2 linked regions of the Homo sapiens genome follow. The protein of the gene in region 2 purifies or fractionates together with the protein of the main gene of each other region. This does not show direct contact. Each region holds a gene or a part of one and is shown on either strand. Other genes may lie near its edges.

Region 1 (7,000 bases), on a different chromosome or scaffold from region 2:
AACAAAACTGAAGTGAATAGTGGTCTGGTATTGAGGTGAGGATAACTTTGGTTCGGACGTGTTGAGATATGGAGCTGGTGCTTAGATTCTTAGAGTTGGAATGTAGGTGAGGAAGGGAGTCTGGAAGTACGTATTGAGCCATGAAAATAGTACTAAAAGTGAACATAGAGAACAGATACTCAAGGAGCATCCACTGGAGGAGGAAGGAGAGGAACCATTGAAGAAGATATGTGGTAGAGGTAAGAAGATAGAGGTAAGAAGGGAATATAAAGTGTAACTGAAACCAAGTAGACGGAGAGTGCCAAGCATTGTGGGTCTAAAGTGGAATTATTTATTTAATCACCTTGAGATGTTACTGGGCTTAGACCGAGAGGTCTCCTTTTGCCTTGCTTCAACTTCTCTCTGTAGTGCAGGGCCCAGAAGCAATTCAAGCCCCAAGGCTGAATCGATAAATAATCTTATTTTTCTGTAGAACCTATTGGTTTGGAAAGATGTGGTCTAGTGTAGTTAACTGCAGATCATATGATGTAATGTGTAACTGCAAAGCATTTTCACACATATTGTTCAATTCTCACAGCAATTCCAATTTTATGGATGAGAAAATTATATGTGAAATAACTCTAAAAGTTGTGTAAGTTATGGTGAACATTTTGGTGGTAGTAGTTTTTACTATCACTAATTACTGCTATCTATTTTGAATATTTGACCAGGTAATTCATTTTTTTGAGAGTGGCCGAGATTACAGGCGTGTACCACAACATGCAGCTAACTTTTGTATTTTTGTAGAGACGGGGTTTCCCCATGTTGGCCAGGCTGGTCTTGAACTCCTGACCTCAGGTGATCCGCCCAACCTCGCCCCCCCAGAGTGCTGGGATTATAGGCGTGAACCACCACGGCTAGCCACCAGGCTAAAGTCCTAAATTCCCAAATCATTTATTGTGTTCTGTAAATATCACAACACTGGCCACTAGTTTGAGATTTTAAAATTGAAGTTGAAAAATAGTGTTTTTTAAAAAAATTAACTGAATTTAAAACGTAAAAAAAAAAAAAAAATCCAGGATTACTGTCCTTCCGTGGAAGTATAACAATTGGACTTCTATATGAATTATATAGTTTCTTTTTGTTTTCCTTTAGCCTGTGAATTGTCAAAGTGCAGGGAGGAAGCATAATGTGAAAAGAGAATGGGCTTTCAAGTCAGGCAGTGCTAGATTCAGTTTCTAGTACTTATAGCTGCAGGAAATCCCACATGTGGATCTTTGGCAAGTTGCTTAACCTCTTACAACTTCTGTTTCCTTGTCTATAAAATGGCAAAGGTGGCTGGGCACAGTGGCTCACGCCTGTAATCCCACCACTTTGGGAGGCCGAGGCTGGTGGATCACCTGAGGTCAGGAGTTTGAGACCAGTCTGGCCAACAGGGTGAAACCTCGTTTCTACTAAAAATACAAAAATTTAGCTGGGCATGGTGGCGTATGCCTGTAGTCCCAGCTACTTGGAAGACTGAGGCAGGAGAATCACTTGAACCCGGGAGGCGGAGGCTGTAGTGAGCCAAGATTGCGCCACTGCACTCCAGCCTGGGTGACAGAGCAAAACTCTATCTCAAAAATAAATAAATAATTAAATAAAATGGCAAAGGTAATACAGGTTCACTATCCCTTATCCAAAATCCTTGGAACTAGTTGTATTTTGGAATTCAGAATTCTGGGGATTTTTAGAAAGGTAGCACCCCGGTAGGGTTTGGGGCCTGAAACCTGTAATCAAACACCTTAATATTAAATATGAGTGGTCATACTAAGCAGGATAAATGAAGACTATAAAGAGCCTCACGTTAGTTCAAGTTAAATTTTGCCATCAAATGAGTTCAGGTAAGGTTTTGCCTCCAAATAAGTTACAAAAAAAACTTTCGGTTTTCAGAGCTTTATGGATATCGCAATTTCGGATAAGGGATTATGGACCTGTACTTCCCTTATAGGGTTGTTATGAAGATTTAAACAAGATAAGCTGAAAACACATTACACAGTGCTGGGTAGGTATTCAATAAGTATTAATTTTTTTTTCTCTTGGAAATGTTGGAAGTTTTTGCTTGTTTAGTAATTTATAATTCTGGGGTTGTCTTTCTTTCCCTGAGGAGAAACCGTTTTAATTTTCCTTAAATCTTATGATGGGATTAGAGAGGGGCTAGAGGCTGAGTCTTGAGAATGCTAGGAAGGGGATGAGAAAGATAGCAACAGTTGAGGCTTAGAGCTTGGCATTAGTAAGCAGTCTGGATTTCTACCAGGCAGGTTTTCAAAGTAACTGTAGATTGAGCTGAACTGGTGGGGGAGTCATGCTCTAACTTCTCTAGAGTCTTAAAAGAAAACCTCTGACCATCTTGTCATTGCTTCTTTGTTTGTTCACAGAGTGACAGAAGGAAGTCAAGGCACCATTATGACTCGGATGAGAAATCAGAAACAAGAGAAAATGGTGTTACAGATGACCTGGATGCTCCCAAGGCCAAAAAATCTAAAATGAAAGAGAAGCTAAATGGAGACACTGAAGAAGGATTTAATAGACTTTCAGATGAATTCTCCAAATCTCATAAGTCAAGAAGAAAAGATCTACCAAATGGAGATATAGATGAATATGAAAAAAAATCAAAGCGAGTATCATCTTTAGATACTTCTACTCATAAATCAAGTGATAATAAACTAGAGGAGGTATGGAAGCTTTTTATTTTGCATTTGACATTGTTGTTGAACTATAGGTTGATTTGAATTTTTTTAGGCTAATTAGAATTGATTCTATAACATTTCTTGATTAGTGTCTAGTATTCTTAGTTGCACTAGAGTCTGTACAGGTGAAGCCTGAGCCTTTTTTCCTTTGGCCCTTGTTTATTTCACTGTATGGCCTTTTTCTTGGGGCGAGGTGGGAGCAATAGTTAAATTTAAACCTTTTCTGTACATTTGGGTTCCTAAAGTTATTCGGAATTGCTTGATGGTTATCTACTTGAATTTCTTTTCTTTTTTCTTTTTTTTTTTTTTTTGAGTCAGAGTCTCTCTCTGTTTCTCAGGCTGGACTGGAATGGCACAATCTCAGCTCATGGCAACCTCTGCCTCCCGGGTTGAAGCGATTCTCCTGAGTCAGCCTCTCAAGTAGCTGGGATTACGGGCACGCACCACCATGCCTGGCAAATTTTTGTATTTTTAGTAGAGACGGTGTTTCTCCATGTTGATCAGGCTGGTCTTGAACTCCTGACCTCAAAGTGATCCACCTGTCTCGGCTTCCCAAATTGCTGGGATTACAGGCATGAGCCACCACACTGGGCTGATAATTAGTAATTCTTTATATTATATAAATACGATAATTGCTGATATTCATATACATTTGAGCTTAATGCATAATCTTTGGGGAAAAGTGTTGAATCCTTGTGTTATGGCCTTTTTTTTTTTAATTTGTGAATTTGCTGTTTGGCAGGAAGCACATGTGTTTGTTGATCTAAATAAGGTCCTTTAAATCTGTATTTCTAGCAGTGGAATGTATGGCTTGCTTCTCACTTTGGTGGGATTTTGCCTGGTAAAATCTGTATTATAATAGGTTTAACAGTTTATTATTTTGTTTAGATCACATGAGAGTTCAGGAATTCTACTTAAAGGAATTTATCCTAAGGAGATGATGAAGAGGTGTGCAGAGCTGTATGAATAAGTACTCTTATCATAGTAATATTGTTGATAATAGGAAAATATTTAAACATCCTAAATGTCTGATAGTAGACATTTGGTTTAAATAAAACATACTATAGCTGTATAATAGAATACAGCTATCCCAAAGGGTGTACAATAGAAAAGGTAGTCATTGTATCTTGTTAAAAGAAAAAAATAGGCTGGGCGCAGTGGCTCACGCCTGTAATCCCAGCACTTTGGGAGGCTGAGGCAGGTGGATCACCTGAGATCAGGAGTTCCAAGACCAGCCTGACCGACATGGTGAAACCTGTCTCTACTAAATACAAAAAAATTAGTTGGGTGTGGTGGCGCATGCCTGTAATCCCAGCTACTTGGGAGGCTGAGGCAGGAGAATCGCTTGAACCTGGGAAGTGGAGGTTGCAGTGAGCCGAGATTGCACCATTGCACTCCAGCCTGGTCAACAAGAGCGAAACTCCATCTCAAAAAAAAAAAAAAAAAAAAAAAGATTATAAAATGGTATATACAGTGTGATTTTATTTCTATTTAAAAAATTTTATGTGCATAGAGTGAAGACTGGAGGAGTATGTTTCAAATATGGCTTTAGCTGAGTGGATTATAAATAATTTTTAAATTTGTTTCTGTTTCCTCTGTAGTTTTTAAAATTTCCTTTTTTTTTTTTTTTTTTTTTGAGATGGGGTCTCACTCTGTCACCTAGGATGGAGTGCAGTGGTGTGATCATGGCTCACTGCAGCCTCATCCTCCCTGGGCTCAGGTGATCCTCCCACCTCAGCCTCCTGAGTAGCTGGGACTATAGGCGTGTAGCACCATGCCTGGCTAATTTGTGTATTTTTGGGAGAAATGGTGTTTCATTCACTATGTTGCCCAGACTGGTCTTGAACTCCTGGGCTCAAGTAATCCACCCACCTTGGCCTCCCAAAGTGCTGGGATTACAGACATAAACCACTGGGCTCTGCCAGTTTCAAAAGTTTCTACAATGACAGTGTATTGTTTATTTTTGTTTGTTTGTTTGTTTTTTATAGAGACAAGGTCTCACTGTATTGCTCAGGCTAGTCTTGAACTCCTGGGCTTAAGTGATCCTACCACCTTGGCCTCCCAAAATGCTGGAATTACAGGCATGAGCCACCACGCCTGGCCGACAGTGTATTATTTTTATAATTTTTTTTATCATAAAAAGGTAACAGCAGCATTGAAGTTTGTTTAAATGGCATGCCATTTGAATTTGAAATTATTTTTTATCTAATTCCAAGTTTGAAAATTGTTAGTGTGTGTTTCTTTAAACACATGAACAATAAAGCTTACTGGGTAGACACACTGTTTTTGTTCTATGTGCACATTAGTATACAAAGTTTTCAATAAATGTTAAATGATAATCTCATGGTAACTTGTATATATGTTAAAGAAATCTTCAAGCTTACGGTAACTTTCTCTTGTATTAGCAACCTAAATAAGCTTTCAAACGCTGTAGAATAAATTTTTAACTTATTTTCAGAAAAACTTTACATTCCTCATTATATACTTTCTTTTAGCTTAGTTTATAGGCTTGTGTTAATCTTTATAATTTTGTCTACATCTGTATGATTTAGATGAATAAATAACCTTTTTGGCTGGGCATAATGGCTTATGCTTGTAATCCCAGCAGTTTGGAGGCCAAGGTAGGAGGATCTTTTTTTTTTTCTTGTTCTTCTTTTGAGACAGAGTTTCGCTCTTGTTGCCCCGGCTGGAGTGCCATGGTGCAATCTCGGCTCACTACAACCTCTGCCTCCTGGGTTCAAGCAATTATCCTGCCTCAGCCTCCCGAGTAGCTGGGATTACAGGCATGCGCCACCATGCCTGGCTAATTTTGTATTGTTAGTAGAGACAGGGTTTCTCCATGTTGGTCAGGCTGGTCTTGAACTCCTGACCTCACATGATCCACCTGCCTTGGCCTCCCAAAGTGCTGGGATTACGGGCATGAGCCACCGCACCTGGCCAGGAGGATCTCTTGAGGCCAGGAGTTTAAGATCTGCCTGGATAACATGGTGAGACCCTGTCTCTACAAAAAATAAAAAACTAAGTGAGCATGGTGGCATGCGCCTGTGGTCCTAGCTGCTTGGGAGGCTGAGGTTGGTAGGATTTGAGCCCGGAGGTTGAGGCCACAGTGAGCTGTGATGGTGCCACTGCACTCCAACCTGGGCAACAGAGTGGGACCCTGTTTCAAAAAAAAAAAAAAAGTGTTCCACTAATTTTCCTTGTAAGTTAATCTGTAAAAAATTAAAAACAGTAAATGAGGAAGAGTTGAGTATAAATTATTTAGGCCATTGATTTCATTTTTACAGACCTTAACACGTGAACAGAAAGAAGGAGCCTTCTCCAATTTTCCTATTTCTGAAGAGACTATAAAGCTTCTGAAAGGTATGCAGTTTGGTTGTTGTTGTTATTGTTGTTGTTTTGAGACAGAGCCTCGCTCTGTTGCCCAGGCTGGAGTGCAGTGGGGCAGTCTTGGCTCACTGCAACCTCCGCCTCCTGGGTTCAAGCGATTCTCCTACCTCAGCCTGCTGAGTAGTTGGGATTATAGGCGTGTGCCACCATGCCCGGCTAAGTTTCATATTTTTAGTAGAGACGCAGTTTCACTGTGTTGGTCAGGCTGGTCTCAAACTCCTGACCTCCTGATCTGTTCCAGTTGGGTTACCAAAGTGCTGGGATTACAGGCGTGAGCCACCACGGCTGGCCCAAAGGTTTGCAGTTTTAATGGATATGCAATTAAAAATCTATCACTAGATTTTGTAAAACTCCTGTGCCTTTTCTGACCAAAAGGAGAACATAAAAAGCATAGAGAAGTAGCTCTTCTTTAATTGCACTTACTTTTACATCATCCTTTTCAATATTCTGCCTTGTTTTTAGCTTTAAGATTTATATGCATTCGTCAAAAGTTTAGACTAATTTTTTAGTAATGCTTGTTTGTGGTAGGAATAACTGTGTCACCAGGTGGCATGTCTTTAGGCAGACATAGAAGAATTATGATTGTCATTTTCAAATGAATATATTTTTTCCTAATGCTAGTCGTAAAGAAGTATTTTAATTAAATCTCATTTTACAGGTCGAGGGGTAACATATCTCTTTCCTATTCAAGTTAAGACCTTTGGTCCTGTATATGAAGGAAAAGATTTAATAGCTCAAGCACGGACAGGAACAGGAAAGACATTCTCTTTTGCCATCCCCTTAATTGAAAGACTCCAAAGAAATCAAGAAACAATTAAAAAAAGCCGCTCACCAAAGGTAATCGTTATAGGGGGTAAAAGCTTTAAATGTTACTCTAACAGAAAGGGAAAGAAAGTTACACGAGT
Region 2 (16,382 bases):
TCACTTCTCACCAGAAAATAGTCTGGTTAGGCTAATCACTATAGATTGATTCAGTTACTGGCCTATGGTAGATGGAGCCTCTTTTCTCACTAGCCAACCTTGGTAGTGGTAACCCATCCCACAGGTCCCAACTCATCAGCACTAGGATGCTGTCATCTAGAAGACCTGCAAGAGAGCTCCAAGGCCAGTTCATGAGAATCATATTGAGATCAGGATCTATCCTACATGCCAAACCCATGAAATACACAGTTTATTATTTGAAAATTCATAATTGAAAAGCACTGAGAGGAAAGGGACATAGTAAATATGTCAGGGTATTTGGACTTATGCAGATGTGGTTTTGATGTTCAAGTCTACATTACCTTGGGTAACTTTATTTACCTCTCTGAGCCTAAACATCCCCATACAATAGTCATAAAAATATCTGGATTAAATATAACATAGATTACATCTAGAATTACTAATTCTAATTACTACTAAAATCAGAAGTAATGTATGTAAAAATATCTCATGGAGTACTTGGTACGTAGAAGAAGTACTTAATTCTTTAGGATGATTATTATTATGAGAGTCTTAGATTCAAGGAGAGGGAAAAAAACTCAAGACAAAATGAAAGTTATATTCTCCCTTTTTGGAGAATTTGAAAAATTACTTTATTTTCTGAAGGCTCAATTTGATGGTTTGAAAACAGCCCTAATTACAGCTCCATCAGCCTCAATTTTTTGATAGATTCAATTTGTAAGAAAAAACAAAAGGTTTTCTCTTACCCTTCTCAGCGACATCCCTAAGGGAATTCTTCTATACATCTGTGATACACATATTGAAAAGAACTCATGTTTGGCCTTAGTATCTACTTTCAAAGTTACTAAAATGTGATTTTTTTCCTACATTTTTTAAAAAATGTAGCATTTGGAAGAAAGGTCATTTTATCTATCAGGGATTATAAAAGCACTACAGAGAATGTTTCAAGGAACTACAAAAAATGACCTAGAAAACAATTATTGGTTCCAAAAAACTAAAGCCATACCATGCAAATTTATAAATATTTAACTAATTGTATCAAGAAAAAAACGTGATGTAACTATTCAATCTGTTTTCATCATGGATTTAACTTAGCTTAATTAGCTTAGTACACTTGTGGGTATCATAAGGGTATTAAAAGTGACAATAAGATGATGTGAACCATGTCATACAAAAAGCTTGACTGGCGTACAATTGAGCATCAAATTTAGTTCAGAGTTTTTTGGGTGACAAGTCAAACTGAGAAGCATGGTGAATTTTTAGCCTGTCTTTTTTCTAACCAAAAAAACCCACTAGTTAATCAGAAGAGATATACTTTAAAAAATTCCTAGCAGTCTAGGCAAAAAGGAATTTATCATGGAAATCCTTATATAAAGAATTTGAAACGCATAACATAAGGTGCCAAGATATTTCTTTCCTTTTCAGCTCATCTCTTTTATATTGACTCTCAGTAGTTAAAAAGGGGGGGTATCATATTAAAGCATAGTGTAATAAAGACATTTTGACATTTTAACAAAAAAGTATTGTAATGTGATTATAGTAAGTACATTTCCAGTTATGTAATTTGATATAGATAGAGAGTTTAGAAAACTTAGAGCAATTAGCGATTGGACTATTATTCTTAAATATCAGTGATAGTAGTTCCAGGCTTTTCAGAGATGCTGAATAAGGAGGAACTTGAGCTTTCAATCCCTGGCTATACCCTGAACCACACGTATGAATTCTTGATCAAAATACGTATTATCCACGTGCTAACTGGCAGTATGCACATGACAAAGGTAACATTGCTCTGAAAATAAAATAAGCCCATATGTATTTTAGTCTAAACAGTGTGTAAGCCCCTTTCTACATATTAGCAAAAATAACTGCAGACAAAGAATTTTTTTCAGGAAGAAACTTTGGATTTGCCTCAGTGCTCAAATGAGATGAAAGGAAAATCAATACAATAAAGAAACTATAACATGAAAGAAGCTGCCCCTCTAAATTTCCTCTTCTCCATCCAGCTCCACATTCTCCTTTAATTAATTTCCCTCAAGCACCAGCACTCCAGATAATTATTAAATAGCCAAAATTAGTGTTTCTATTTTATTTGATTAATTAAGACTATTGCCCATTCAATAAGCAGGATCTCCAAATTTAACTTCATTATTAGTCTTCACAGCCAAATCCAGGACCTCCCACTTGGATTTCACAGATTACAGATTTTATAGTACAATATAAAACACAGTTGTGGAAAATGTATATCTATTATAATTGTTTCTATTTTCTTTAAACTCAAGTGTATTTTGTGATGTCCAAAAGAAAAAGATGATTTCACAGTAGTTTTTGTTTGTTTTGCTTTTGCTTTAGATATGCAAAAGCACAATATTTCATCTATTATAGAGATTAAATAGGCATGTGTGGGGTGGTATGGAAAGTGGATTATGTTTTGTAGCATTGTTATATTTGGAAAATGAACTCTAAGACCAAATAGACATTTTTTAAATGGACTTCTGAGATATAACTATCTTCATAAGTTGGAGTGCACCAGTATTTCATTTATTGACGACTTCACTTGCCCACTTATTGGGGAAACATTAACAGATGTGTACTATGTTTCCAACACTGGGCTGGGGGCTTGAATTCAGGTGGCTCCCCCACCACCAATCTACCCAGTGAGGAACTCACAGTAGTTGTGAGAGAGGACAGGGGAAATACATAAAAATTATTGCAACAATTATTCAAAGTATGTTCAAAATGCTATAGAAGCAGACAAGATGAAATGATTAATTCTTCACGGAATTGGGTAAGTTTTCCCGAAGGAAGTTCCACTGGAAGTGAGCCACCAAGAATCAAGAGGGACTTTCAGACAGAAGGCATTCCAGGAGAATGAATCCATGAACCAGAGATCAGAAGCCTGAACAGTGAGGAGACCTTGTACACAAAGGGGGAGCTAAAAAGAAAGGGCTTGGAAGAGCTTTTAGAAACTATACTAAAGAGTTTAAATATTGTAAGTCATTGGAATCCAACAAAGGTTTTAGATAAAGAGACTTACACAGTTAGATCTGACTTTGTAAAGATTAACTGTAGCAATGCCACAGTGGAGTGTAGATGCTGCTTTTTTGCACAAATGTACACAATAACCACTGAAAACTGAATATTCTTTGATTCTTCATCACAATAATCCCTCCACTTCCAAATGTGCTTGTACTTAGCTGCTGAAGCCATCAGAACCTTGTAAAGTTTGAGTTTGTATAGCAAAGACAGATGGGTTACCATTGCGAGACTCGATGTGAGGCTTCCACTCTTCACATGAAGAACATTAACTTCATGGCTAAGCTGACCATTTAACAACTGTATTTTTAAATATCTTTCTGTATCTGGGAGAGATCTTAGTCCTTTAGCCATGGCTTTAAGAGCAAACAGGCATCGTTCCATTTTAAATATCTTCTGCTTTTTCCTCTATAAAATGTGATCAGTGAAGAATGGATGTCTCAGGCTCTTGTTATCACCAACCTCCTCCACACCCACATGTAACCAATTGGGTGGCTGTCCCTTGTTACTGGGCTCCAGACTGAGACTCTACCTACCTTCCCCATCTTGTTTTTCCAAAGCACCCACTTGTACCAGAAACTGAAACATGGCAGAAAGAAGGAATCAGCATGACATAGCTCAATTCATGAGAAAAGAACCCTTCACTGCTGGTCAGAAAATTCACAGGAAAATAACTACAAGCGACTAAGACGGTGCTACAGCACCACACACACTAAGAACAGGAAACAAACGCACGGCCTGAACTGTACAGTAGCACCGCTTGCTTTCAGCCCTGAGAAACCAACCCAGACTTTAATCGAGCCGGAAAGAAAACACTCGTCAATGGGCCAGTAGGTCACAGTGAAAATATTAAGGGAACTGTTGGTAAACACCAACAGGGCTTTGGCTAAGACAGCAAAGTAATCATACTCGGACTACTCATCACCACCTGTTGCACATTCCTCACCCTTCCTGCCCACTCCTTACCCTTCACCCTGCAGAGTCCAAGATCACACAGTAAATAAAACCATGATCCATGAAAGCTCTCAGAGCTTTGGCCATTACTATCCCCAGCAAAAGCTGAAAGGATTTCCCTGGGGATTTCACCCAAAAACACTTTTACACTTAAATCTATGTTCTAGTCTGGAAGAATGCATTGCCATTTGTTCTGCAGTGGATTTTTTTCTAGATAACTTAATTCTTTCCCACTTCTTATCAGGCTTATATTTTCAAAATAGTTCAGATTCAGGGTATGTAAGGCACAGAAGAATATTACAGAGAAACCACCTCATCTCAAATCCAAACCCCTGAGATGAAGTAATAAAACCAAGTAATATAGTTGAAAGCCAAGGACAGTCTGAGTTTCAACAGCCCCTCCACATGCAGAAAGAATTACCGATTATTTTTCCTAGTACCATACCTCTTTTATATTCCTTCCAAATACCTCAAACTAAATTCCAGATCTGAAAAACTCAGTTTATCTCTTATCCCCACTTAAAGGTCTTCCACCAAGAATATACTGCCTGTGAATGGTAGGATGTTATTTATTTCAGAGTTTTGTCAATATTTCCGTCCTCCAAGATGTCAAAGGTGAAGTCTCTGACCACTAAGTAATGGCTCTAGAGAGAACAGATTTCTGGACTTGCTACCTGAAGGCCAGGCAGTCAGGGAAGATAAAATGGTAACTTTTATTACTGAGCTCTCTTACAAGTTGAAATATGCCCAGAAAAGAGGAAGAATTAAGAAATTTAAAAGGGGGAGTGAGATCTTCACAAGTCTGATGTGACTTTATGGCTGTTTTCTGGCTTTTTCTAATACATACATTCTGTGTGTTTTATTTTACAATGCCCAGTTCAATAGCGTCATCCATTTTTGCCCTGAAGGATTGGTTTTGAGTTCTAATTGGAACTGGGGACAGATTGTTTGTATTTAATCCGTCTGTACATCTTCTACTCAGTAACTGAGTAAAGCTCTTAAACTCTACTGCAAATATCCCTGGATTCCAATGAATTTGTCTTACTTAGTAGACATAGCAACACATATTGTTTTATTTATGTATTTATGTATAAGCAAAGCCTTAACAACTTTTATATTCCAAATACTCAGCACGATTTATTTATTTCCTTTTTAGAAAGAGATGAAACAATGATGCCGTGGAAGGTTAAAAAAAGAGTAACATAAAATGTGCTGGAAACAGAAATTACTTGGAGAAATTACTTGTTTAATTCAAATGAATTAAACGAGATATAGTCTACAAAGAAGTCTGGGCTCCCTATTACTGGTTGATGCTGAAAATCTATCTAAGGAATTCAGAGTAACATTGTCTCCCTTCTATTTGGGTACGTATAAAATAAATGTAGTCTTAAGTATTTTCTAAAAACGAGACCATATTACATGTTTATCATTAAATGTTATTTTTAAAAACATTTGGACAAAATCTTTTGAGTGGCTTCAAATTCACCAAAGATTCCCTAACGTTTTGTGTTTACAAATATATGTATATATTTTATAATATATATTTCTAATATGTAATATATTTATAAATATTTTAAAACATATTTTATACATATAAAATATATATTTTTGCAAATATATATGCTTATTATTAAAACCTATCTTTGTGCGCCTGTTACATAGGGAACTCCTATAAGATACTAGAGGAAACAAACAAGGGGAAGGGGAGGATGGATACCAAGAGAGGAAATTGAATTGTACAAAGGGTTTTTATTAATTCCATCTATTTTTAAAGCCAGAAAGACATACTACCAGCTTGCTGTCTCCCGGCACAAACATGCGCGCGCGCGCACACACACACACAAACACAGACAGGCTACATCAGCACGGGATTCCTGCGATCCCTCCCCGCCCCCCGCAGCCCCCTCCCCGCCCCCCGCAGCCCCCTCCCCGCCCCCCGCAGCCCCCTCCCCGCCCCCCGCAGCCCCCTCCCCGCCCCCCGCAGCCCCCTCCCCTGGCGCAGGCAGCCGCGTCCGTCCTTCCCGCGGTAGCTCCGCGCACTTCCTCGCGACCGCATCACCTACCTTGCTGGGAGCTCAAGACAGATGCCGGACAGGGCTGCTGCTCCGAAGGAAAAGGCTCCCAGGACCAGCAGTAAGAAAACGCAAAGAAAAAAAGGTGGTAGTGAGGCTCCTTTACTTTCCACAACAAGGGGAAGTGTTGAACTCTATGCACTGGGCTGCTCCGCAGCGCGGGTTTCGGAGGAAATAGGCGGCCGAGAGAGCTGCGCCTGCGATGGGAAGTTGGGGGGATTCCCCCAGCCACCCAGCCACCCCCGCCAGGCTCCTCTCTGGTCCCCGCCGCAGCCTTGACAGCTCCCCTGGTCTCCGAGCCCCTCCAGAGCCCTGCTGGTTTCCACCCGGAGCTGGGCTGTGTTGCCACATGCACTTGAGAAATCCTAGCAGTTGCGCAAAGAGTCCCAGAAGTTAGAAAGGGTGATTGTGTGTGAATGTGTAAATATACAGTACAAGAGGCTGGAACAACTGAGTGGGGCCAACCCTCAGACACAGCTCGAGGTTTCAGATTTCATTTGGCAACTGGTAGCTTCACAGGACTCGAGCCGCACTACAGGGGAGGCCGGCAGGAGCCCCGCCCTCCCAAAGCCTGGGTTATCTGAGAGCTGGAGCTACACCGCCTGGCGCCACTGACAGAATGCGCCCTGCCTGGTTCCTCCGCATCTGGCATCGCTCGTTCCTTTCAAGTGCATCATAGATACTTGTTGGCCACAGATCTGGGGCTGTGGGCGCGAGAAGGTTGGTGAATACATGTCTCCTGCCCTCAAGGAGCTCTGCATTTCATTGGCCAAACCCCATACACCGGTTTTACTTGCTTCTACCAACTCTGTCTCGCTAACATTTTATTTCTCCAATTAGAATTACCTGGGCCATTAAAGCAATATTCCTGGAAATGCACATTTAGATGGATGCTCTCTAACTAGAGCCTTAGAGAAATTCAAAGTATAATTACTTTCTTACGGTGGTGTAAGAACTCTCGGAGTTACACAATATGGGACAAAAGGACAAACTAGTAAACATTGTTTTGATGCAGGCCGTCTCTTCCCACCATCACCACAATGTCTGTTTCAAATTGTGATCTTACAGTTCTGGTTACCTGGCATGCTGAGTCAAATTATTTCAAAAAGCTTTGTAAAGATCTCTGTTTTAGAAACCCACTTACAGTGGATCAGTCATGCAATCCTAGCACTTTGGAAGGCTGAGGCAGGAGGATCGCTTGAGCCCAGGGGTTTCAGACCAAAATTGGCAACATAATGAGACTCCTGTCTCTATAAAAAAAAAATTAAAAAAATAAAAAAAAAGTTGGGCGTGGCGGCGTATGTCTGTAGTCCCAGCTACTCAGGAGGCTGAAGCGGGAAAATCCCTTGAGCCCAGGAGGTCAAGGCTGCAGTGAGCTATAATTGTGCCAGCGCACTCCAGCCTAGGTGACGGAGTGACACCCCCGTCTCGAACAATTACTACTGCTACTACTAATAAAAGAAACTCTCTTTTAGAAATCATCACCAGATATCCTTAAGACACAGAATGGGGGTGTCCTCACTAGGGATCTCCAGTGAGAGAGGGATATGGAAGAAGAGCAAATGTTTAGTTTTAGAAACACCAAAAATAAAAGGCTGAGTGGACACTGATATGTTTTTCCTTTTTGTCCTCTTTCTCCAAGTTCTTGGAGAAACGAATCTACCCCATCCCATGCTGAGGTCCTACTATAAACTTGATTTTCTGGTGGGAGAATTCTCAGCCCTTTAATGAATCAAATTAATTTGTGTGGGGAAAAAATTGCGTTTCATATTTCATTTTAAAAATATGTATGGAATTCCTAAGCTAGAAGTAATGTAGCTTATTTTCCAATTGGTGGGAATAAATTACCTTCATCAACCCACATGGCCTTACATGTTCTAGCAACACCCTAGCAGGTGAATGCTGATGGGCAGTTTCAGATGAAAGCTGGAAAATAACATTAACCCAAATGAAATTTGCACACATTTGATGGACTCAAAAGCCTCAGGAAGACAAGTACCAATAATTATGATTCAAGATGGGGACATTTAAAAAAACAAGGAAACTGTCATGTCAGTAATTTATTTCAGGGTCTAACAAATATTACCACAGCAGTTTAGTCTCAAAGTGATACAAAACTGAACTCAGGGTGGTTACTGGGTAGTCCCTAGTCCAAAAGATTAAGACACACCTCTAATACACACACAGGCTGTGTTCAAGGCCTTTTCCTTCCCATCTTCTGGTTCTGTCTCCACCCTTTCCAACTGATAGCACTTCATTGGTGTGTGTGATATATGTGATTATCTTAAGCTAGAAAGTACAACAGAAGGAGAGGATGGTTGTCACTTGGGGATTAGACAGTTGAGAGGATAGGAAAGGAGTTATATCCACCAATACAAGCCCCTTCTTCCCCTCCTACTTAGAAAGAGGTGGACCATTGCATTCCTTTTCTAGAAGCCCCTCAGCAAGGAGTCTGTTCCAAGAGAATATAACCTGAACTAGAAACTGCGTTGTTTTCTGGCCTCTGACTATACTGCTCCTCTCTTATTGTAGATTAGTTGGGACCAAGAGACATTCCTTATACGTATTGTGGCATCTTTAAAGGAGAGAATAAACTCTTGAACAAGACCCTTGAAACCTGATTCTAATCAGAGGAGAATGCTGATGTGACTGATACAGACTCCAGGGAGGTGGTGCCTGACATTCAGCTCACTGGATCTCTGCTCAGAACTTGCCCAGAGGGTTACTTAAAGCTGAGTTTTATCAGTCAACCTCAATTCTGAGTTAAAGGTGTGCTTCAAACAAACTCTACAAAACCCAGAAATGATTCAAGGATAAGGGCTAACTTTCCAGGATCTTCAGGTCCTAGACACCTTCAGGAAAAAAGTCTATGAAAGGTCAGTATAATGGCAGGCAGAGTTTGAAGGACTTCAGTGTTTACAGGAAGGATGTATAATACTTTAGGACCGGGGGATTCCAGAGATCTAGAAATGAAAGCAGAGGAGGAGAGAAGGAAGATAATGGCTATACTACATCTGGACAAGTTGTTTGAGTGTTGGTATTGCCAGAGTCAAGGAAAGAAACCCCCTCCATAGACAAAGCCCCCTGGACACTGATTCTATCAGGCCATTCTTTCAATGGAATTTAGTTAGGGAAACCTCAGCCAGTGTTTCTACAATTACTTTGTCTAATATTTAAAGTATATGGGTCAAATGTTACTATTAAATGAGTATGGATTAAAATGTATTTTAATGTACTTCACTAACTTAAAAATTGCAAAGTTTTTCACCAGATTCCATGTCAGATTCTTTGAAAACCTTAGCATAGAGTGATTCATTGTCATATTACCCAATTGTCCATTAATATCAGATACTGAAGCTTTTTAATTACATTTTCTTTTAAGAAAACATAAATTCCTAAGAGGGCAAAAAACACAGTAACAAAACTGAATAGTCAAGAATTGCCAAAATCCTAACATTTTCAACAAGCTCTCACCAACAATGCAGAATTTGTGTGGGTACTGGGATTTGCCAACATCTGATTTCAGGATTCAGATAGAAGGCTATGCCTTTTAAAGCATGTCTGTTTCTAAACATCTGTTCTTGTTTTTTCTTTTTATTTCCTGGTAGAAGTTTCTTTTCTACAAAGTCCAGCTTTGTCTGAATTACTAAGTAAGGTGGAAAGAGATTAAGGGAGCTTTGTGCCCACCCTCTCCAACACTTTGGATCACATGATTCAGGGAAAGATGTATTATTATTGTTAAAATGGTGGGGAAGGATCAATCCAGCTAAATACCTGTAAATAAGATAATAAAGGAGAGAAAGAGCATGATAGAAAAATAAGCTGTGGCCATGGGTCATCCATGGCCTCTATAATTCCAACACATGCCTTCTAACAGTCAACAGCTTTATAAATGAAACACATTATGTGCCCATTCAGATCCTGAGAGGAGTGTGGTATCAACCGTCACCACACTTTCTTTGAATTGACATATTTTTGGGTCACACTCTTTCATCTACCAGACCCCCAAAGTAGATGGTTCCAAAAATATCAATGATTAAATTTACTTTCTAAGTACTGTCTATTGGTTTTTGTCTAATTACAAAATTAATTAGTTCAACTCATGAAACTTGGAAGCTACAGAGAAGCTTAAAAGAAGAGATTTAAAACTGCCCATGATCTCCCCACTTAGAGATAAGTAATAACATTTTGAATATGTTGAATAAGTCCAATTGTTTTTTTTACCTCTGTGTATGTGCCTATTTTGTATAATGATTTGGATCATGTTACTAACCAAAGCAAGATCCTTTTGGCCTGGGCCCAAATTCAAACCTTAGTTTCCAATCAAGATGTTCCTTTTTGAGACAGTGTCTCACTCTGTCCACGGGCTGGAGTGCAATGGCCCCATCTCAATTCAATGCAGCCTCAACCTCCCAGGCTCAAGGGATCCTCCCACCTCAGCTTCCTGAGTAGGTGGGACCACAGGCACGCACCACAAAGCGTACATAATTTTTAATTTATTTTGTAGAGATGGAGTCTCCACAAGTTACCCAGGTCTCAAACTTCTGGGCTCAAGCGTCCTCCTGTCTCGGTCTGCCAAAGTGCTGGGCTTACAGGCATAAGTCACTGCTCCCGGTCTCAGAATGCTTCTTTTTATGCTGTTTAAACCTAACTTCAGGAATTTGCTGGATTCTGTTAAAGAATTAATCTCGGCCGGGCGCGGTGGCTCATGCCTGTAATCCCAGCACTTTGGGAGGCCGAGACGGGCGGATCACGAGGTCAGGAGATTGAGACCGTCCTGGCAAACACGGTGAAACCCCCTGTCTACTAAAAATACAAAAAATTAGCCGGGCGTGGTGGCGGGCGCCTGTAGTCCCAGCTACTTGGGAGGCTGAGGCAACAGAATGGCGTGAACCTGGGAGGCGGAGAGATCGCACCTCTGCACTCCAGTCTAGGTGACAGAGCGAGACTCCATCTCAAAAAAAAAAAAAAAAAAAGAATCTCTCGCTTTCATGATATGCAGATTTTTCTCCAATCAGCTCCCAGAGAAACTTTCTGCTTTATACCTGCTGTGGTCATTTCTAAATCCCTTACTAGTCTAGAATTTCCTTGTGCTTTGCTGACTCACAATTTCTCTAAGACAACCTTTAATATGCAGTCATTCACATTTTAGCTCACCACATTCTCTATCCTTTCTCTACTCCCTTATAAGTACAGGCATATGTGTGTGCACGCACACACACACACCATGAACATTCATATCACACATGCATACTCATAAAGTGAAATATTTCTCCAGACATGCAATTGTTCACTTATGGACTCAACTCTTAGTGTAATACTGAATGACATTTAAAATATTTAGAAATCTAATTGCACCTGAGCAGCAACAAAGTGGGCTTACTCTGACTACACATGCCATTTTGTAGATTTCAAGCATGTTCACATTTTGGAATCTTTTCTTTTCAGTTTTTTAGAAAATTAAATACTGCCATTGAAATAACACCATTCTTCTCCCAAGAATCATTATATAGTATTCCTAAGTTACATGTGTGACTTTTAAAATAGCTTCCTATTCCCTTATACTCAGGATAATAGAAAGCAAGTTACCAATAGGTTCTTCACATTCATAATTCATGTTTCTAATTGCATTGTCATGTATATTCCAAACCTTATCATCTGTCTGGGAAATCCTCATTTCGTCCTATTTTCATCATATCCCAAGCTCTTTAAATAATGGATTTTTTTGGCATCAGTTCCATTCTTTCCCTCTCTCCATTGCCTGCTTTATCTCATCTCAGATAATTTAAAATTAAAGAGAAGAACATTTACCTCATTGTACATTCTTACCCCACTGATAAAAGAATACACAGTCAAGATACAAATCTAAGCTGTTAAAACTGTTAAAGAACTCAGATCCCAGGCATAACTGATCCCATTGTTGATCAAACGTTAGATTTGATCAATATTTGGATTGCTGACTAGAAAATTGGAGCTGAGGTCATTGTTTTAAGTCATCTAAAACCAACTAGATTGTCAAGAAGATTAAAATGTTTTATTGTTATAGAGTGCAGACAGGACCATCAACTTACTCAATTATCTTCCGTAAAAACTAGATAAGAGAGTGTAAATGAATCAATATAACTCATCCAAACATATTAATAATGATAATAATAAAATAAGAAGAATATTCCTTATGGTTATTAATGTGCCTTTCCCATATGTGGTCTTTATTGCAGCAGCTATGAGAAATTTATCCTTATTTTCACTTTGCAGAAGAGAGAACAAAGAGAAACATTGTATATATCTTATTCACAATCATATAAGCTAATAAATGATGGAGAAAAGATTTGAATTTAGGCTATTCAAGTACAAAGTCTGGATTCTTTTCACTGATGTATCAGCAACAGCATCTCCCTATGCAAATAGAGACAGCACAATTTCCCTTTCATATATCACTTATATTGGCCAAGTGTTTGAAAATAATTATTATTACATTATTTTGTGAGGAGGAAGATTGTTGTTCTCCTACAGACCAATTTTAAATCCCACTTAAAGTATTAATTTTAATGTCCTACACTATCAGATCCTTTATTCAAGTTACTAACCAATAGCAAAATTAACTGTTCTTCTTCTTATTCCAACCAGTAGCAAAATTAACTGTTTTTTTCTTCGTGCTCACCATCTGTGAGAGGTGCTAATGGACAGTGAATTGGCCAAAAAGCCAAGGGGAGTATCAGCAAGTGGAATAGTAAGTGGTTCGGATAATTCATGAACTTGAAAATTAGTCCCTCAATACTGAGTGTTGTATTCAAAATCTTAAAACTAAGATCTTGAAGGGAAACTAAAATAAAAATTTTGAAATTATAAGCTTGGTTTTTTAAGACATAGTAAAGATAGGCTGAGGCTGATTATGTAAGAAGTAGTGTTGGGGATAACTAGTTCCTTAATATTTGAAAAATGACCAAACATAAACTTCCTGGAAAATCAATAAAAATAATGGAATTTTTGAAAGATTTTCAAAATAAACTAGGAGGATATTCCAAGAAGATAAATGTTAAAGGAAAGTTCAAGATGTGGGCTATTATGCAGATAAAATAGGACTACAAAATTATTGTCCTCTCCTTTTCTTTTCTTTTCTTTTCCCGAGTTTGTGTTTGAAAATGAGAGCAAGCAAGCTTTGTGAAGGCTTACTTTGCAAGAATGGCGAGCTTAGGCCGGATTGTAAGATGAGACTCAACTGGGGCTCAGGCTGGGGAGGGCAAATGGTAGCATTTCTAAATGCTGAGCAGTTTGTCTTGATGTCTTCAATGGAAGACTTTCTTCAACCTTGTGTACTTTACTCAAGAATAGACAGGTGAGTAAAAGAGGCTTCTAAATGGTGATCATGAGGAATAGTAGTCCCAAGAGTTGGAAATGGAGGCTCTTGAACTTCAGCCTAAGACACTGATGCATTTTAAAGAAAAATAGTCCTTTTGGATAGGACATTAGATGATTCCATTCAAATGTTCTCTGACTCAAACTGGGGGAAAATAATTCCAAATTCAAGAAAGGGAACTGTGGCTCGGTGTAGTGTTGCTGTAGTCCCCACTACTTGGGAGGCTGAGGTGGGAGGATCACTGGAATGCAAGAGTTTGAGGCTGCAGTGAGCTATGATTGTACCACTGCACTCCAGCCTGGGTGACAGAGTGAGACCCTGTTTCTTAAAAAAAAAGAAAAGAAAGAAAAGGGATTGAAAAATCAAAGGACAGAGAATGAGACCACCTTTTGGGTAACCTAATAATTTTAATAGTGTTATAGAGAAAGCTTCTCTGAACTGGGTTGGGGCATGGCAGTGCCCAGCATCTGTAGAAGCAATCAGCAGCAAGATCAATCCCAGCTGTTCCTTCAGGTTCAATCCTGCTGCAGGTGAGGGCTATGAGGTAAGGGAGCAGATAGCAGCACTGAGATCTGTGATGACTTCCAGGGAGAAGACATAAGCTACTCAGTACTCTGTGAGAGAAAGCTTAATTGGATGGGGATTTCCATCATTCCTGCTAGTTGGAGACTTGGAGCTTAAAGTCTAAAGCCTAGACTTTAACCAGTTCATACACATTCATTATTAAGGTAAAGTTCTCCCATATTCCTGTTTAAGGTTTTTTAAACTTCTGTCAATACTCAAGTACTATCACAAAGAATTAGAAGCACATAGGGGAAGTAGTTAAGCCCAATAATGGTAATTTCATAAAGCAGAAGCATATTGGGAGAAATTAGCAAATTCAGGAAAGTAGCTGGTTGTCATATACAGAGATGCCTCACTTACACAGGCACAAAAGTGTGTAATACCTCCTAAATGTGAGGCCCAGCGCTAGATGCAAAGTCAATTCAGATTTGTCTGTGTTTTCAAGAAATTTACATTCAATCATTAAGAATGGGTGAACAAAAAAGATTTAAAGTGAATTTTCCATTTTCCTCTAAGGTAATGCAGAAACGATGTTGCAATATGAACATTTATTCTTAGCTAACATCTAGCCTCTGAAAGTTACTAGCATCATTTTCACAGCAAACAAAAGACTTACTTCTTATACGGTAATGTTATATCATTATTTTAGACAGACTCCAGCTAAGACTTTAAACAGTATGTGAAGATATTTTGACATATTTTACATTTTTGCTCATTTGTTGTTTCAATTATCAACACATTGCTATAAAAACCAGAAGACAATGGCATAGTTAATATGAAAATTTCCCATGTAGGTTTTTCTTGGCATCCATTGCACAGAATCTCTGGTTTTGAACTGTGCAATTAAGAAAAAAACACTCTTTTATAAGTAAAGACGGAAATCTAATGATAGTATCAAATCTTCCGAAAATCAGTTTACAAACATTAAAATAATTTCTGGATTGAGCATTCCACTAAGAAAGCCTAACACAACAACAAAAATCTTTTATTTTAACATTGAGCTTTAATTGCTTATATTGCCACACTTATTTCAGCCAAAAGGTGACAAGATATATAGAAATATAATTTGTAGGCTTAAAAGTGATTCAGAAGTTGTTTATTTTTTCTACTTCTCCTTTGCTTTTGGGGGTGATTGTTGTAAACACTTCAATTTCATTGGGTCTTAATAAAATTAATTGTATAAATCAAATATTTAAGATTAAGTGCCTTATAATGTATAAATTGATTTATTAACCCCTCATAAAGAGTGCCCCATTGGATTTTTAAAAAATATTTAGAATCAAATGGTTACTTAAATAATAAATTTTGCACATGAAGAATCTATTAATTTAAAATTTTTGAGAATAAGGATTTATGTTAATTTTTACATGTAAAGAAAAATACAATGATAGTAAAATTGTTCTTTATAGTGAAAAATGCCAACTGTAGAACTAACATGCTTATCTGAATTTAACCTTGTCTATGTTCAGTTTCTTTTAAAAGGTTATCATATTCACAGGTTATTTAAAATAATCTCTAAACATAAAGTCCAAGAGGCCAAAAATTAAATATTGTTAATATGAGTATATTGTTAATTAAACTGTGTTACACTCATGTTGATTTTATAAGAACTGGTTACATTTCCTAGGAACTATCATTATGTATAATCTACACAGATAAACCCATTAATAGTAAAAGTTTGCATTTGCAGTTCATCGAGGTAGATTAGTGGCCTATGGTTGCATTTTTTATTTAATAACTACAGGGATTCCCCACTGAAAATTGCCTTTTCCAAGGTGAGCACACTGTTCTCAAATGTAAACTAATAGTCTATAAACACATAGCTTTGTAACAACCTAGGAAGCTATGACAGATTTATGTAATAACTTCTTCTTATACTGCTAATGAGCTTTAGCAAGTCAACTTATGGGTGTTTATCAGAACTTTGTGTAGGTTTTGAGCAGTCATGAGACTTTAACATAAAAAATGAATTATTTATTTAAAAGGCTACAATTAAAAGATCAATATGTGATCCACATTGAATGATGTTTACTAATATCATTGGTCATTTCTGAGCTCAATAAAGATTTATTTACTATATGAAATGCCTTTTAATTACTCTACATAAAACCTCAATACTCAGAATTCAGGGGAAAAAATTAAAATCAAGCTTGATTCTTTGTTTAATTTTATTGCACTTCAATTGCAAATACAAATATAAAATAAAAGTTTGCATTAGGTTATAAGAAAACATTCTCATGGAAAACAGCAGGTAGATGTCAGATGTGTTGACATCTACACCATAATAATCCACTCTCTTGTCTCTCAACTACTTGCCCAAGTAGACATTCCCAAGGAGACATCCCTTGTGAAAAGCGACCTATGCTTTTCCCCTCCAAATT

The links.
Region 1: the proteins of ARHGAP24 (region 2) and DDX50 purify together in Homo sapiens (affinity purification with mass spectrometry, with the first as the bait; 2 studies listed by BioGRID). This does not show direct contact.

What each region holds. Positions count from the first base shown.
Region 1 is NC_000010.11:68,904,315-68,911,314, forward strand, and holds part of DDX50 (ATP-dependent RNA helicase DDX50), read left to right. Parts: intron 1-1,955; exon of another isoform or gene 1,956-2,023; intron 2,024-2,396; coding exon 2,397-2,693; intron 2,694-3,596; exon of another isoform or gene 3,597-3,656; intron 3,657-5,992; coding exon 5,993-6,068; intron 6,069-6,753; coding exon 6,754-6,932; intron 6,933-7,000. UniProt on the Homo sapiens protein: ATP-dependent RNA helicase that may play a role in various aspects of RNA metabolism including pre-mRNA splicing or ribosomal RNA production.
Region 2 is NC_000004.12:85,465,249-85,481,630, reverse strand, and holds the start of ARHGAP24 (rho GTPase-activating protein 24), read right to left. Parts: upstream 6,482-16,382; 5' UTR 6,072-6,481; intron 1-6,071. UniProt on the Homo sapiens protein: Rho GTPase-activating protein involved in cell polarity, cell morphology and cytoskeletal organization. Acts as a GTPase activator for the Rac-type GTPase by converting it to an inactive GDP-bound state.